Homo sapiens: one gene and its partners. The protein of the gene in region 2 interacts with the protein of the main gene of each other region in a biochemical or structural test. Each region holds a gene or a part of one and is shown on either strand. Other genes may lie near its edges. The genes, in order: NUP62, OGT and YES1.

Evidence for each region.
Region 1: of the proteins of OGT (region 2) and NUP62, one has a biochemical effect on the other in vitro, tested with the Homo sapiens proteins (2 studies listed by BioGRID).
Region 3: of the proteins of OGT (region 2) and YES1, one has a biochemical effect on the other in vitro, tested with the Homo sapiens proteins (one study listed by BioGRID).

Annotation. Positions count from the first base shown.
Region 1 is NC_000019.10:49,922,813-49,926,562, reverse strand, and holds part of NUP62 (nuclear pore glycoprotein p62), read left to right. Parts: intron 1-3,750. UniProt on the Homo sapiens protein: Essential component of the nuclear pore complex. The N-terminal is probably involved in nucleocytoplasmic transport.
Region 2 is NC_000023.11:71,550,095-71,553,844, reverse strand, and holds part of OGT (UDP-N-acetylglucosamine--peptide N-acetylglucosaminyltransferase 110 kDa subunit), read right to left. Parts: intron 1-3,750. UniProt on the Homo sapiens protein: Catalyzes the transfer of a single N-acetylglucosamine from UDP-GlcNAc to a serine or threonine residue in cytoplasmic and nuclear proteins resulting in their modification with a beta-linked N-acetylglucosamine (O-GlcNAc).
Region 3 is NC_000018.10:805,607-809,356, reverse strand, and holds part of YES1 (tyrosine-protein kinase Yes), read left to right. Parts: intron 1-3,750. UniProt on the Homo sapiens protein: Non-receptor protein tyrosine kinase that is involved in the regulation of cell growth and survival, apoptosis, cell-cell adhesion, cytoskeleton remodeling, and differentiation.

The DNA of each region.
Region 1 (3,750 bases), on a different chromosome or scaffold from region 2:
ACTGGGTTTGGTTTGGTTTGGTTTGGTTTTTTTGAGACAGAGTCTTGCTGTGTCGCCCAGGCTGGAGTGCAGTGGCATGATCTTGGCTCACTTCAACCTCCACTTCCCAGATTCAAGCAATTCTCCTGCCTCAGCCTTCCAAGTAGCTGGGATTACAGGCGCCCACCACCACGCCTGGCTAATTTTTGTATTTTTAGTAGAGACGGGGTTTTGCCATGTTGGCCAGGCTGGTCTTGAACTCCTGACTTCAGGTGATCCACCCACCTCGGCCTCCCAAAATGCTGGGATTTACAGGCATGAGCCACCACACCCAGTCTTAAGCAAGACCTAGCTTTTTTTTTTTTTTTTTTTTTTGAGACAGAGTCTCGCTCTGTTGCCCAGGCTGGAGTGCAGTGGCACCGTCACAGCTCACTGCAACCACCGCCTCCCAGGTTCAAGCCATTCTCCTGCTTCAGGCTCCAGAGTAGCTGGGATTACAGACATGCACCATCATGCCTGGCTAATTTTTATATTTTTAGTAGATACAGGGTTTCACCATGTTGGTCAGGCTGGTCTCGAACTCATGACCTCGTGATCTGCCTGCCTCAGCCTCCCAAAGTGCTGGGATTACAGGTGTGAGCCACCGTACCCAAGGGGGTTATTTTTTAAATAAAATTTTTTATTTTGGAATAATTGTAGATTGACTCAACAGAAAAGTTGCAAAGATAATACGGAGAATTTCTGTATGCCCCTCACTTGGTTTTTTCCATTAACATTTTACATTACTTTGCCACATTTGTCACAACCAAGGCAACATCAGTATGTTACCATTGACCAAATGCCATTCTTGATTCTGACCACACTTGATGCTGATTTTGGTAGTTGTTACTTAATGCCCTTTCTGCTCCTTCCGGATGCCTTCAGGATGCCACGTTATATTTAGGCATCATGGCTCCGCAGCCTCCTCTGGCCTGTGACTGGTTTTAGACTTTCCTTGTCCTTCATGACCTTGACAGTTTGGAAAAATGCTGGTTGGGTATTTTATGGAATGTGCTTCCATTTGGTTTTGTCTCAGACTGGGATTGCGGGATATTGAGAGGATGGCCAGGTAGGATGCTATTTTTTTTTTTTTTTGGCTTTTTTTAGTAGAGATGGGGGGGAGGGTCTTACTATGTTGCCCAGGCTGGTCTTGAATTCCTGATTCCTGGGCTCAAACGATCCTCCTGCCTCACCCTCCCAAAGTGTTAGGATTACAAGCCTGAGCCACTGTGCCCGGCCTGGGTTTTTTGTTTTGTTTTGTTTTTTAATTTTTTTGGTTTTTTGAGACGGAGTTTCACTCTTGTTGCCCAGGCTGGAGTGCAATGGTGCCATCTCGGCTCACCGCAACCTCTGCCTCCTGGGTTCAAGAGATTCTCCTGCCTCAGCCTCCCGAGTAGCTAGGATTACAGGCATGTGTCACCACACATGGCTAATTTTGTATTTTTAGTAGAGACGGGGTTTCTCCATGTTGGTCAGGCTGGTCTCGAACTCCCGAACTCAGGCGATCCACCCGCCTCAGCCTCCCAAAGTGCTGGTATTACAGGCGTGAACCACCGCGCCTGGCCCGGTGTGGGTAATTTTTAATAGCTTGGTCAGTAGGAGAATTGCATTGCTGGCTATGTGCGGTTTATGCTGGCTGCAGAGGTGTCTGGGCAGGGACTCTGCTTCCCCTCCCCACCGTTTTGCCGCCTTTTCTCTCTAGCTATTGGGTCCCACCCACTTCAGCCCAGCCAGACTTAGCAGCTGGACTCAGGGTGAGTGGGTGCCAGTTGGCACCCTTAGCTCTCCAGCCCCTCCCAGCCTGTTCTAGTTCATAGCCGGTCATCAGTGGTTGCCTGCGACCCTTCTCCCCAGATCTTCGAACCCTGAGTCCCCTCGTGTGCACATTCCTGACCCAGGCCTGTGGCCCCTTCAGGACTCATGTCCTGGCCTCCCCCAGCCTCGAGCTCCCCTTCAACTCCTGAGCTGGGGCTTGAAGCAAGGGTGGGGCTACTGGGGACTCTTTTTCGGTGCGGAGGGGCCTGGCTTGGGGAGTGAGGCGGTGGTTGCAGGCAGGTTGCATCAGCCCTGGCTGTTTGACGGGGACGGGGAGTTCGGGGATTCTCTGGGGACCCCAGCACACCTGGCAACCGCTCCCGGTTAGCAGAGCCTTGGATAAGGGAGAACCCCCGCACAGCAAGAGTAGGGGTGGTGTGGAGAGGGAGGGAGATCAGCCACCCGTGCAGGACCCTGAGAATCTGAGGCTCGGTGCCAAGAAGGGGCCTCAGATCACAGAGGCTTGTTAGCAGGAGTCAAGACTGAGGTCCCGAGAGGTAAGGGGGGTTGTGAAAATCACAGTGCCAGTTAGATGGGACCTCAGCCTCCACCATGCTGCACAGCTTCCAGGGCCCCGAGGCCCATGGTGTAGTCTCTGGGAGGTCTCCAAGCCCTGACCCTCACCTCAGGCCTGCTGCTGCTCACAGTTGCCAGACGCTATCGATTCCTGCCTGCACCTGCACCGTGCCATCGCCCTGCTATTGCCGCAACTCCTCACTGCTTTCCCAATCACGGTGGCCTCCTGGCATGATGGAAAAGGCTCCGAGTTTTGCATCAGACAGACCGGGGTTCTGGTCCTGAGCCCAGCACTCAGTTGTAGACTGGAGTGCAGGCAGGGCCCTCATCTGCCGAGCCTCGGCTGCCTTCCGCAGCGTGGGTCAGAGCATGGGCCCTAGAGCCAGCCTGCTGGGTTCACACCCCAACTCCACCACTTCTGTGACCCTCAGCAAGTGGCATCCTCTTTCTATGACTCAGTTTCCCCTCCGTAAAATGGGGATGAGATGGTCCATTGCAGACGGTGGTTTTGAGGATTAAATGTGTAAATGTGCGTGAAATACCTAGAGTGGGGCCTGGCATAGGGAAATGCCCTGTGAGCAGTAGTTCCTGCTCTGGGGCCTGGTGTGGGAGCGCTGTGGAGATGGCATCAGTGAAGCCGGCGGCTGCCAGAGCCCGGGTCTGTGTGTGATTCTCTCTGTTCTCGCCACGCCTGCTTCTGCTTTCAGATCCGCCGTGTGCAGATGTCTGCCTACGTGACTGCTCCCCCGAACGCTTCGAGGGCAAAGTCAGGGCCCTCCTCATTCCCAGAAACGTTCCCCACAACCCCCCGCCCTGTGCTGCTATTTCCGTAGGCATCAATACATTTTCTAATGAGTTGCTCAGCACAGAGGCCAGCGAATGTGATACTGAGGTCCCTGAGAGGAGCCAGGGAGGGTAACTGGGTCACGCAGGCCAGGGGTGCCGGGGTTGAAGGTGGGAGTCCTGGCAAACAAGGGCAGGTAGGCCAAGGCCAGCTCAGTTGGGGAGAGGATGACGCGGGGGCTGGGAGACAGCACAGGCTGCCACGTGGCCCACAGTCCTCCAGAGCCCCTTCCCTCCCTTGTGCCTGCCCTTGTCCCTTCAGTAGAAGCAGTCACAGCTCTTATGCAAAAAAAAAGGGACACAGCAAACTGATAACAACTGACACCAGTGTCCTAGAGCCCAGGATGCCATCACTCACCGCTTAGTGGTCTGGGACAAGATACTGTACCCCCCGACCTGTGGTCACCTCATCAGTAAAATGGGCACAATCATAGAACTACCTTGGGGCAGTGTGGAGGGGCAGGGGGTTGACATGGGAAGAGGCCTGGACCGGTGAACTGCTGACCACCTTGGGCCCTGTGTCAGGCCCAGAGGGAGGGGTGGCTCCCAGAAGCACCT
Region 2 (3,750 bases):
AGAGAAACACTGATCAAGAAAGATACTCCTACAGCATGGTAAATGCAAACTTCAATCAAAACACCGGCCAGGTGCAGTGGCTCACACATGTAATCCCAGTACTTTGGGAGGCCGAGGTCGGACCACTTGAGGTCAGGAGTTCAAGACCAGCCTGGCCAACATGGTGAAACCCCATCTCTACTAAAAATACAAAAATTACCTGGGCATGGTGATGTGCAACTGTAGTCCCAGCTACTCGAGAGGCTGAGGCATGAGAATGGCTTGAACCCGAGAGGCAGAGGTTACAGTGAGCCAAGATTGCGCCACTGCACTCCAGCCTGGGCAACAGAGCAAGACTGTGTCTCCAAAAACAAAAAACAAAAACAAAAAAAAACACACACACCGAAAAGGTATTTGATTAAGACACTGAGTAATTGTATGTTTATTAAAGACTGATAAAGAACACTTCATCTGCTGGGCGCGGTGGCTCATGCCTGTAATCCCAGCACTTTGGGAGGCCAAGGCGGGCAGATCACTTGAGGCCCGGAGTTCAAGACCACCCTGGCCAACATGGCGAAACCCCGTCTCTACTAAAAAATACAAAAAATTAGCCGGGCATGGTGGCTCACGCCTGTAATCCCAGCTACTCAGGAGGCCGAGGCAGGAGAATTGCTTGAACCTGGGAGGCGGAAGCTGCAGTGAGCTGAGATCGTGCCACTGCACTCCAGCCTGGGCGACAGAGCGAGACTCTGTCTCAAAAAAAAATAAAGAAAGAACACTTCATCTTCACTTAGATGACAACTCTGTAGTAAACACGGCATGATGCATTTAATTTAGATTGTCTATAGTGATAGATGTCCACCCCAAGAACTTTTAAACTTTATAATAGAAATGTTTAAACATATACAAAAGCAGAGGAACATTACGTCCAAGTCTCCATTATCCATTTTCAACAATTCATATATCATGTTTGATCTTATTTAATCTATACTCCAACTTACTCCCCCTCTTCGCAGATCATTTTGAAGCAAAGCCCAGACATATTCCATTCAAAAATACTTCAATATGTATCTCAGGGACAACACAAGAATGCTTTTTCCTCCCAACCTAACCACAATACCATTATCATACCTAACAGAAAAAAAAAAAAAAAAGACAGCAATTCCTTCATATTAAATATCAGCTGGGCGTGGTGGCTCATGCCTGTAATCCTAGCACTTTGAGAGGCCGAGGCAGGCAGACTGCCTGAGCTCAGGAGTTCAAGACCTGGGAACATGGCAAAGCCCTGTCTCCACTAAAAATACAAAAAGCTAGCCGGGCATGATGGCGCACGCCTGTAGTCCCACCTACTCCGGAGGCTGAGGCAAGTGAATCCCTTGAGCCTGGGAGGTGAAGGTTGCAGTGAGCCAAGATCACACCACTGCACTTCAGCCTGGGCGATCAAGTGAGACCCTGTCTCAAAAAAAAAAAAAAAAAAATCCATTCAGTGCTCCAATTTCTCATTAACTGAGTCAGGATCCAAATAAGACAGATATAATTTGTCAATGTGCCTCTCTGAGTTTCTTTTAATCCTTTAAAAGTTTGTGTGTTTATTTATTTATTTTTGGAGACGGAGTGTCACTCATTATTTATTTTTGGAGACGGAGTGTCACTCACTCTGTCGCCCAGGCTGGAGTGCAGTGGCACGATCTTGGCTCACCGCAACCTCCTCCTCCTCCCGGGTTCAGGCAATTCTCCTGCCTCAGCCTCCTAAGTAGCTGGGATTACAGGCACACGCCACCGCACCGCACCCAGCTGTTTTTTTTTTCTTTTGTATTTTGAGTAGAGATGGGGTTGCACCATGTTGGCCAGGCTGGTCTCGAACTCCTGACCTCAAGTGATCCACTCGCCTCAGCCTCCCAAAGTGCTGAGATTACAGGGGTGAGCTACCGCACCCGGCCTAAAAGTTTAATTTAAATCTCCATTTTTATTACAATTTGTTGAAGTAAGAAGGTCAGCTTCCCAAAGTTTGAATTTTGCTGACTGCATCCCTATGGTGTCCTTTAACATGTTTCCTGTCCCGTGTATATCTCCTGTAAATTGGTAGGTAGAACCAGAAGCTTAATTAGGTTTGTGTTCTTTTCTCTTTGTGCAAGACTACTTCACTGGTGAAATTGTTTACCACAAGGTACTTAATACCTGATTGTATCTCGTTTTTGTCACTGATAAATGCTTTAACTTTTTTTTTATTTTTTGAGATGGAGTCTTGCTCTGTCGCCCAGGCTGGAATGCAATGGTGCAATCTCAGCTCACTGCAACCTCCACCTCCCAGGTTCAAGAGATTCTCCTGCCTCCGCCTCCTGAGTAGCTGGGATTACAGGCTCCTGCTACCATGCCTGGCTAATTTTTGTATTTTTAGTAGAGATGGGGTTTTGCCATGTTGGCCAGGCTGGTCTCGAACTCCTGACCTCAGGTGATCCACCTGCCATGGCCTCCCGAAGTGCTGGGATTACAGGCGTGAGCCACCAAGCCCGGCCTAATAAATGCTTTCACTATTAATGGTGATATTCTATCATTCCTTCTTCACTTATTAGCTAGAATGCTTTTATAAAGAAAAGCTTCCCCCATCAACTATTGGGTTACTCTATGGTCTAGTTCATACAGGAGAGGGAAGACATATGCTTTATTCTTTTAATTTTTAAATTTAAAGTTGATATATAATTGTGTATATTTATGGCATACAATGTGATGGTTTGATCCACGTATACATTTTAGAAAGAGTCAACCAAGCTAATTAACATAGCCATCACCTCACTAACTTATTTTTTTGTGGTTGAGGACATTAAAAACCTATTCTTTTTGCAATTTTGAAATATACATTATTAACAACTGTGGTCACCATGCAGTACTACAGATCACTAAAACTTATTCCTCCAGTCTAACTGAAACTTTGATCAATATCTCCCTTTTCCCCATCCCTCCTCCACCCCCCCAAGCCTCACCACCCTTCTACTCTCTGTTTCTATGAAATCAACTTTTTTAGATTCCACAAATAGGTGACATAATACAGTATCTACTTTCTGTGCCTGGTTTATTTCACTTAGCATAAAGCACAGATAACAAAAGCAAAAATATGCAATGAGATTGCATCAAACTAAAAAGCTTCTGCACAGTAAAGGAAACAATTACACAGAGTGAATAGGCAACCCCGGATTAGGAGAAAGCATTTGCAAACTATACAACTGATAAAGGGTTAAGAAGCTCAACTCAGTAGCAAATACGCCCATTAAAATACGGGCAAAGGATCTAAACAGACATTTCTCAAAAGAAGAGGTACAGGCCAGACACAGTGGCTCATGTCTGTAATCCTATCACTTGGGGAGACCAAGGTGGGAGGATCACTTGAGCCCAGGAGTTCGAGGTTGCAGTGAGCTATTATGGCGCCACTGCACTCCAGCCTGGGCAACAGAGCAGGACCTCATCTCAAAAAAACAAAACAAAACAAAACAAAAAAAACAAATGGCAAGCAGATATATAAAAAATATGCTCAACATCACTAATCATCAAGGAAATGCAAAATAAAACCATGAGTTAGCATCTCACACTTGTTAGTATAGCTATCATCAAAAGGACGAATAATAACAAGTGTTAGTGAGGATGTAAAGAAAGGGAAGCCTTGTAACTGATGGGGGAAGTATAAATTGGCACAGCCATTTTGGGAACTAGTATAGAGGTTCCTCAAAAACTTTATTCTTCTCTTTTTAACCAGTTTTCCAAATTAATTGTTCCTTG
Region 3 (3,750 bases), on a different chromosome or scaffold from region 2:
GTGCATTGCAGCCTGGGCAACAGAGTGAGACTGTCTCCAAAAAAAAAAGTCAAATACTCCGAAATGTACAATAATTAGAGAATTTTTGGGAAAAAATTTCTAAATAAAGTTCTAGTTCGTTTTCTTTAATAACTTAATTGTTTTAATATTTTCACAGAAGACACAGGTTTTACAAAATTAAAATCCGCTTCGGCTTGTATGTTGTAAATAACCAATAGAAGATAATCAAAATGTTTATTGAACGAATGGATACTGTTCTGTCATCAAATACTCTGTTTTTCTGAAAATTACATAACATGACAATTAAAACTCAAAACTCAATTACGGCATCAAGATCCTAAGTTTTGACTTTTATCTATTTTCGGTTTTCTAGAACAGTAATTCTTTAGATCAGTAATTTCAGCCTTAGTTTTTCTATTCTTAAGAATGCCATGAAATCTCAGCATAAAATAAGTTTTTGTTTAAAGTTTATGAAGATTCACAGCACCTGAAGGATGAATATGTTTTGGTTCAAAAGGCAAATGACAATATGGTGTTGGAGTTTCAGAAATGCAGAGAATCATTGGGTCATGCTATTTTATTTGCTTTATGTAATGGCTTGCTATTTTAGTGGTTGATATTGTGGCTTTGCATTGTTGTAGAGTTGAAGAAGAGATCTCATCTGTGCCAAATTTTTATATCACAGGAACTTTCAGTCATGTTATAAAGGTGATGTTTGTGGTGCACGCTTTGTTGTGTGAATATTTACAGGAAGTTTTAGTAAGATCTTCCATTGTTTAGAACCCTACATGGCTTAGGTCACCTTCAGTTCACATTTAAACAGTTTTATAATATAAGTCCTATAGCGAGGCACAACTGCTTTTCTTTAAAGGAAATAATCTGTTTCTATTAAAGTGTCTTGTCTTATTGGTAGTTCGTGTATGGCTATGGTAGGGTATGTATTATCTCTTTTCTTCCTCTCAGCTGCTCCAGTGCCACAATTAGGCTGAGTATTGCTCAGCTGCAGCTGCTGGGTGATTACTAACCATCCAGCTCCTGTCTAAACTCAGAGGCAGATTTAGCAAAAGGAGCTATAGTAACAGTAGAGGGTGAAAGAGAAGAGCCAGTGCTGCCGCCAATATCGTTTTCACATGTCTGTATGCCAAGGAATCGTTGGCTGCAGCAGCACTACTGTTGTCTTGGAACTAGCAGACTTGATGGCAATATATCCTGGTCTGCGTTGGGTTTACCTTTAAGATCTGAAAGCCCACTCCAGGAAAGACAGAGAATCCTGTAATTTTAGAGTATAGAATAATGTACTGTTGAGGTACTAATGGACTGAGTTACAAGCCTCTGTGCCTCAACTCCTTTTCCCCCCCAAATCTAGGGTAGCAATGCCCTTCAGTTTCTCTTGTTCAAATGTACAGTAAGCTGTGAGACTGCAGGTTCCTTGAAGCATTATACTTCATTTCACTTTAAGCTGTGATTCTTAGAATTGCTTCTTTTATTGTTGTTTAGGGGAGGGGAGTAGAATTGCTGGCATATAGGTTCTTTGGACTCTACTTTCTCCTAGGAAGTGGAAGGCCTTCAAGAGGGATAACTTCTAGAATTAGCTATACATTGCATATCCGTGGTGGCTGCCTGAATTTTGCTAGTAGGAACTCTGCATTCTTTTCCTTTTGTTCTTTCTTTATCCCTGGCGTTTGAGAAGATGGACATCAACAGTTGCAAATACGTTATCAGCTATATATGGCAATCCCCAGACTGGAAGATGCCATAGGCAAATTTTGCTGCTTCTAAAATGCTGCTCAGCTTATAAATATGCCAAGCAAATAGCAGCAGTCGCATCTTTTGTGTTTTTGTGTTTTGCTTTGTTTTTGAGACAGGATCTTGCTCTGTTGCCCAGACTGGAGTGCAGTGGTGCAGTCACAGCTCACCGCAGCCTTGACCTCTGGGGCCCAAGGGATCCTCCCACTTTAGCCTCCTGAGTAGCTCGGACCACAGGTGTGCACCACCATGCCTGGCTAATTTTTTTTTTTTTTTTTTGATGAAGTATCACTCTACTGCCCAGGCTGGTGTGCAATGGCACGATCTTGGCTCACTGCAACCTCTGCCTCCCAGGTTCAAGTGATTCTCCTGCCTCAGCCTCCCGAGTAGCTGGGATTGCAAGCGTGCACCACCACGCCCGGCTAATTTTTGTACTTTTAGTAGAGACAGGGTTTCACCATGTTGGCCAGACTGGAGCATGCCTGGCTAATTTTTGAATTTTTTGGAGAGATGGGGTCTCACCGTGTTGTCCAGGCTGGTCTCAAATTCTTAGGCTCCAGCAGTCCACCTGCCTGGGCCTCCCGAAATGCTGGGATTACAGGCCACCACACCCAGCCACAGCAGCGTCTTGTCCTTACTTTTACCACTACTATCTACTGAAAATCTGGAGATATTCCTTTGACTTATCTTGTCTTTGGAATTTGGTAGTTTGGGGTTTGGCATTTGGGATGGAGATTAGAGAGGATTGAGAAAAGTAGTGCTCAAACTTGTATAACCAGAGGAAGGATGAGGTACAGTTAGACCATGCATTTGAACAGTAAGAAGTACACATCATTATGGCATATACTTAGCAAGAGATTGGTGTTATGACCTCTTTGTGCTCCCACAAAACACTTATGTCAAAACACACCTCTCCTTGCACTGTAATTATTTCTTTCCATGCTTGTCTGTTATTCTTGACCTAGTATTCACTGTGTCAAGGAACTGTTTTATAGCAATCTTTGAGAACAGCCCTTAGCACAATAAATACTAAATAAATTCTGAATTGTATGTAGGGATGTGGTTCTGGGCAGATTTATATGAATTACAGCTATGGACTTTTCGCAAACAAAACAAATCTTTTGAGTACACCTCTACTAAAATGTTATAAAACTAGCTTAATACTTTTTCATAGCTCGAAGTTAATTCTTTAGATTTTTGCTCTCAAGGTTTTGTTCTAGAAGGTGATTTTACAAAATAGCTTAAGCAGTCCTTCAAATATGAATTTAAAGGTCATTTTGATATTTCTAATATGAACTGAAAATTCATTGTAGTTGAAGTTAAACTAGTCTCTAGTAAGGTTTATTTTAAATAAATACGTTGTACTATTTTAGTGAAGAAAGTCCAAGTTATGCTGAAGAAAAATCCTAGATTTTTAAAAAATGCATTTGGTATCTCATCACAGTAGTGACAATCAGTATTACAATTATGACTTGTTCATATATACCTAGGACAAAAAGAAAAAGAAGTCCTGATTTTCTTGCAGTAATGTGTGTGAAGGAATGCATAATTCATAGGTGTACTTTTGCTGGGTTATTGGGGGTGAGGACGGAACAGGAAGTGCTAGGAGGAAAAGTACTGACCCCTGAAACTTCAAGATTGTCTGGTTTTCAGCCTCTATTCCCAGCAAAATGTGGATTCTAGGTTTTCTTCAACTGACTTAAGAGGATTTTCACTTCTCTAATTTTTTAATGTAACTTTTCAGTTTCTTAGCATTAAGTAGAAATTGGGGTGAGGTGAGGAAGTTGGTGGTGGTTGTGTATAAGTTAATACTTCACATTGTTTCCTGGCGAATGTATTGACTTCTAACTTTTGTTCTGATGTGATTAATATTTTACAGATAAGGATACTTTAAAAATAATAGCAGCCAGACATTTGGAAGGAGCAGAGAAGGCAATATGGTGTTATAAGGAAAGGACTGGAAGGTAGAGCACTAACACTATCTAGATTTTAGTTTCATTTCTG